Linked DNA regions of Homo sapiens: region 1 is linked to region 2. Evidence: fine-mapped expression QTL. Tissue or cell type: whole blood. Region 2 holds a variant in brackets; the other region holds the start of a gene. All regions are shown on one strand. Distances are between the middles of the regions.

Region 1 (2,910 bases), 24 kb after region 2:
TCACCTTTCAGCAAAGCTGTCTCTGCAATGCCACTTTTCTTCAGCTATTTTTTAATTTTCTTTATACCTTTTCTTCAAATACAGAGAATCAGACCATAATAACTTTATGTGACACTTTGATGATGTAACGTTTGGCTCCTCTACATTTCCAATTTTTGCATTAGAATACCATGTTGTGCTAGATTCTACGGGTCTATAGCAGTCACATGACTTGGTTAAAGGCGATTACCGCATGTGGCTTCAGCTTCACACAATTATACAGATATGGTTTAAAACCTACTTGTTCCTAAATAAATCTTCTGACCACTTTGCCCTGAAATAATACTACCAGACCAGAATGCTGCATTTCTCATTTCCACTTACATAGTGGCATCTGGATCCCCTATCTGAAAACTACAGAACAATTCAATTCTTTGCATACAGCTCCTCTTACTCACCTAGAATCACTGAACTTATCACCTGAGAATCTAGAATAATGGGATTTGCAACCCCCCCACCCTCCAGAACCAGGCCCCACCTCACCTTAGTGGTTAACATTAGAGTTTACTACAATATTAAAAGTAATAGTACGATCTCTTTTTCTCTCTGACCCCAAAAAGGAATAGAACTGAACGGAAATAAAAATGAAATGGAGAGTAGGAGACGTACCGCAGATTGAAACCTCGGTTGCTCTTCCTGGAATAAGAGAGAAAAAAAAAAATAGAAAATATAGAAGTTATTTTTACACTTAACATTCAATAATAAGAAAGAAAATGCCGGCGGCAGAGGAAGCGGAGGGTGGGGAGTCAGCCCGACACCCCTTCCTCCCTCCCCACCCCTTGCCCCCACCCTTCCACCCTCGGCGGGATCCGGTAGCAGGGTAGAGGGGTCCCGAGCGCCGCCCCTCCTTCCGGGATCCGACCTGGGCCAGAGGGGTCCCGAGCACTGTCTCCTCCCTGCAGACCCAGCTCGGGCATCTAGGCACCCCCAACCCCTCTCCGCCCTTCCCCGGCCCCCAGGATCCGCGGGTCACGGGAGGAGAGGATCGCAGTCCGAAGGGGCAGGTCCTGAACGCCGTCCCCTTCCCCTGGATCCGGACAATGGGATCCCGGGCGCCCCCCATCCTTGTCCCCCGGATCCTGAGCCGGGGAAGGTGGGAGCGGGAGGCCGCAGCACCCTCCCGCAAGGGAGGAGGTGGGGGTCCCAGAAGCCGCGTGTCTTCCCCCAACCTCCAGTCCCAGGAGGCCGCTCCGGCCAGGAGCCGGAGGGGAGCGAACCGGGAACGCGACGGAGGCACTCCTGGCCCCGAGGGGAAGGGGAAGGAGGCGGCGGCAGCCCGGCCCCCTCCCGCCGTCGCCCCGCTAAGAGCCCCGGCCGCTGTCCCCGCCTGACAACCCGCACGGGAAGGAAGAAGCCCCAGGACTCACGTCGCTCTCCACCTCGATGTCATCGTTATCGCTCATTTCCTACGGCCCAGGGAGCGGCCACTGCAGCGGCGGCGGGGAGGGGAAGGGGTGAAGGGGAGGGGGAAGTCACCGACAACAACAAGCCGAGTCCCCCCCACACACACACTCACTCACTCACTCACTCGCTCTCTCACTCACACACACACACAACACGGGCAAGAACCACCTCCTCACTGCAGCACCGGATCAACGGCGGCACGCACGCCCGGTCGGCCCCCGCCACGTGACCAGGCTCGCAGCGCTGGGGCAGCCGAGACTTGTAGTTCTTGTCCCTCTAACAGACGGCCCGGGTAGCTCCAGAAAAACTACAAATCCCGGAAGAAACCGCATCCAGGCGACGCCAGCCCGGCTTGTTGACGGAGCCCAAGGCGCCTGCGCGTCCCGGGGAGGGGGGGGGGGGCGGGGGGGGGCGGGGAGAGCCGCGGCGCGGCGCCTCCTGGGAGTCGTAGTCCGCAGACCGCGAGTTGTCAGGAGATTTTCCTCCCGAGGCGGCAGAGGAGGCTGCTGGGAAGACAGGACACGTGGAGGGAGCTGGAACTCCTGGAGCCGGGCACCGTCTGCGCGCTGGACGCCGGGCCCAGGGGACTGGGTGGAGTCTCTGGGGGAGTAGCCGGCTGTCTAAATAATGCTGCCTCTCTTTGGTGTGACTGGTTATACTTTGTCTTCTTCATACGGAGTGGTTCCGTTTTGCGCCTAGGGGCGTAACCCGCCCGGGAGGGAATCTGGCTGCGGCGGACCAGGGGGCGCGGCTCGGGATGCCTGCGCGAACCCTCGGGGGCTGGTGGGGAGGTGTCAGTGGCAGGTGTTTCGTGGTGCTACCGGACAGGCAGAATGACCGACCTCGCCGGGCGACCGCTCCCAGCCGCGAGAATCCTGTATTCGTTTATCTGGGAGTGACCATCCTCGCTACTCAGCTACTCACGTGAGGCTCCAGCGTTCACACAACGCGAACCCTCAACCACTATGGACGTGGAAGTAAAAGCCCCTTCAGAGTTTGTTGTAGCCCAGACAGTTTAGGCAATATCCCAGCTCAGAGTACCATAATTAAGATTGCAAAAAGGATCAATATGGGAAACTTTTGCAGTTCCCTGTCCAGTTAAAATCATATTTATATACTGTGGCATGAAGTGTAATCACATGCATTCCACCGATATTTATTGAACACCTAACTTGCCACAAGGGGATGCCATAACGGATAAGACCAAAACCATCCCTGCCTTCATGCAGCTCACAGCTGTGCAAGCAAGCGTGCCGGTCCTGCCGCCATTGTAAGAGTGTGCAACAAGTCCCATGGGAAGGAAGAAAACCATAACAGACACTTTCCACCCTGAGACAAAGTACCCATACTACTCCTTTACATCTGGTCTCCAAAGTGAATGACATCTTGAGCTTTTCCCATGAGTTACTGATTCCCGGATGAATACCATATTATCCCTGACTTTTGAATGTGGAAATTTGGGGATAT
Region 2 (2,910 bases):
AACCCACTGACACCACCCACTGCCCATCCCTTGGTTCAGCTCAGCTTGAGCCTGGAAGGTCAACCCATTTAATTTATTTTATTTTATTTTATTTGAGGTTTTCTAACCCAGGTGGTTACTTGCATTTCCTTTTACTTGCATCTTCCATGAGGGAGGAAGAGAAGTGAATTCCCCAGGAACAAAGAACTTGATCAGCTCTCGCTTTCCCCTGTGGTTGTAGGAAAAGGCGGGTGTGAGCATTGAGAACAGCATGGGCCTAGCCCATAGGCTGCCCTGATTGGACTACCATTGACAATGGGGAGGGCTCACTGTCCCTGAACACCTGGAGTCTCTGGTACTTACACAGCACATTCCACTCCAAGGACCTCAAAGCTCTTTTCAGACACCTGATGCCAGGTGTGATCCCTACTGCAGGCAGAGCACCTGAGCCCCAAGAAGGGGAGAGGTCAGGCCAGAAAAGATACAAGTCTCCAGATGTCCAACTTCCTAGCTTCCACTGTCTCCTCACTGGCGCCTCAGGTCCTTCCTCAGGACGGCTCTAACACTCAGTTACTCAGGCCCCAAGAAGCAGGACCAAGCCTGCTACTGAGCACATACTCCATGACTGGCTCTGACTCTGCAGGCCCAGGTGCCAAAGCCTGACCTGGCTGGAGCACAGCAGGGCCAGCTGCCCCACGAGCTCGGGTGCTCACCTTGCTGCTCCAGAAGAGCATTCTGCCGCTTGAGGTCGTCAATATCTTGCTGGTGTGTGTGGTTTTTCCTTCGCATATACTGGATATATTCTGTGGCTTTGTCTAGGATTTGGGCCCGGGATGCCTGTGGCAATATGAGAAAAAGCACAGGGGACAAAATAAAAACCCAATCCAGGCAGTGAGGGAACCTGGCCTGCAGCAACTGCTTGGGTGGCTGGAAACGAGAGGGTAAGGTGGGAAAAGGCTGAAGAAATACAATAATGGCTACTGTAGGCTTTATTTATTTATTTATTTTTTTATTTTTTTGAGACAGAGTTTCGCTCTTGTTGCCCAAGCTGGAGTGCAACAGCGTGATCTTGGCTGACAGCAACCTCCGCCTCCTGGGTTCAAGTGATTCTCCTGCCTCAGCCTCCTGAGTAGCTAGGATTATAGGTGTGCGCCACCACGCCCATCTAATTTTTTTGTATTTTTAGTAGAAATGCGGTTTCACCATGTTAGCCAGGCTGGTCTCAAACTCCTGGCCTCAGGTGATCTGCCCACCTTGGCCTCCCAAAATGCTGGGATTATAGGTCACAGGTGTGAGCCACTGCGCCCAGCCTGTTGTTGTTGTTGTTGTTGTT[G/T]TTTTTTTTTTTTTGGAGACGTAGTCTCGCTCTGTTGCCCAGGCTGGAGTAGAGTGGTGTGATCTCAGCTCACTGCAACCTCCACCTCCCAGGTTCAAGTGATTCTTCTGCCTCAGCCTCCAGAGTAGCTGGGATTACAAGTACATGCCACGTTGCCTGGCTAATTTTTACATTTTTAATAAAGATGGGGTTTCACCATGTTGGCCAGACTGGTCTCAAACTCCTCACCTCAGGTGATCCACCTACCTCGGCCTCCCAAACTGCTGGGATTACAGGCGTGAGCCACTGCATCCGTGAAGGCCTTCTTTGTGACATACAAGGTGCCAAGTGCTTTACAGAGCTTAACTCACAAGATTAGTCTCAGAGGTAGCTCTACTAAGAACCCAAGGATCAGAGAAGTACACCGCTTTATTCAAAATCACCAGCTGCACAGTAGCATGGCCTGGCTTTAAACTCAGAGCCATCCGACTCCTGAACTGTACTCCTCCCATCTCCTCTGGTTCTTTAGGTTGCTTTAAAGTCTTTAGCTTGGCTATGTCTGGAAACATTAAAATACTACTTAAATGAAAGCTTTAGGTCACTAATTCTGCTAGGGCCTGGCTTGAGACAGGAATGGGTACAATGTGTTTCATCAAGACCCAAGATTCCAGCCAAACTCTGAAACCACTGTTAACTATTCCGAACTGAACAATGCTGCTGTGTCACTACTTCAGCCTTCCTGGCTAAAGAGACTTTCATAAAAAGCTGTCGGTGCTTGATGTCAACACAGGAAGAGCATGAGATTGGGCCATTTCAGGAAACAACCACACCTCTACAATGGCTGTGGGTTGCCTGGGTACTGCCTTGCTAGAGTAAGTTCGTAAGTCAATAACATGGATGTCATGTTACTGTGCCCCTAGACATCAAACTTGTCTGGGAGATTCTCTCCAGGCTACAAACATAGTCAGAGTTACTTATGGCCAGGCAGCCAGCCAAACTGGTAGAATAGTACAAAGCCAAGCGAAGCTCAAGGCGGGGTAGCCTAGTAGCTTAAGTATGGCCTTCCAGCCAGAGACTCCTGAGCAGCCGGAAAGCTTCTTACTCAGGGTAGGGAGTGCTTGACAATTCTGTATTACAAGCCCAATGGGTCCTAAACAACCAGAACACAACAGCGGGAGAAAGACAAAGAAAACATGTACACCGTGGCTAGCAAAACCAGATCTACTCATATTAAATCCTAACAATCTCAATTTATAGGCCTCAGTTTGGGCTGAGTTTCAGAAAGGTTTGTAAGGCCCGTGCTTATTCATAAGTCCTCACAAGTACTAGAATTTCCAGGCTTTCCTCTTTAGCACCCTTAAGGTAATTTCCTCAAGGAAATTGTTCATAATCAACCATTTTTATCAGGTGCAAATTACGTACAAGATACTAGGCAGATACTGTGGGGAAACAAAATGTATTAGTCATGGCTTCTTTGCCCCAAAGCTTACTTACTATCTAGTTGAGGAGATAAATATGTCTATACATGGAAATATCACAGGGCAGTGCTGACAAGCGTAACCTGACTAGCAGAGACTAGAGACACCACGGGAAAGATGGCTTCTGGCTGGGGTGATTAC

Evidence for each region. PIP is the estimated chance that this variant, and not a neighbour inherited with it, causes the effect.
Region 1: MAX starts here. The variant in region 2 is fine-mapped to the expression of MAX in whole blood (TOPMed, PIP above 0.99).

Annotation. Positions count from the first base shown.
Region 1 is chr14:65,100,898-65,103,807 of GRCh38, forward strand. MAX (MYC associated factor X) reads right to left here and starts at 1,620. Exons shown (of 5, transcript NM_002382.5): 1 at 1,407-1,620; 2 at 649-675. The coding sequence starts at 1,442. RefSeq lists enhancers at 691-1,191, 1,885-2,034 and a silencer at 1,205-1,554.
Region 2 is chr14:65,077,221-65,080,130 of GRCh38, forward strand. It overlaps MAX (MYC associated factor X), which reads right to left. Exons shown (of 5, transcript NM_002382.5): 4 at 693-816. Among named protein-coding and RNA genes, the nearest start is that of MAX-AS1, 11 kb to the right of the region's middle. RefSeq lists an enhancer at 183-1,158. The variant G/T (reference allele first, on the strand shown) is at 1,313.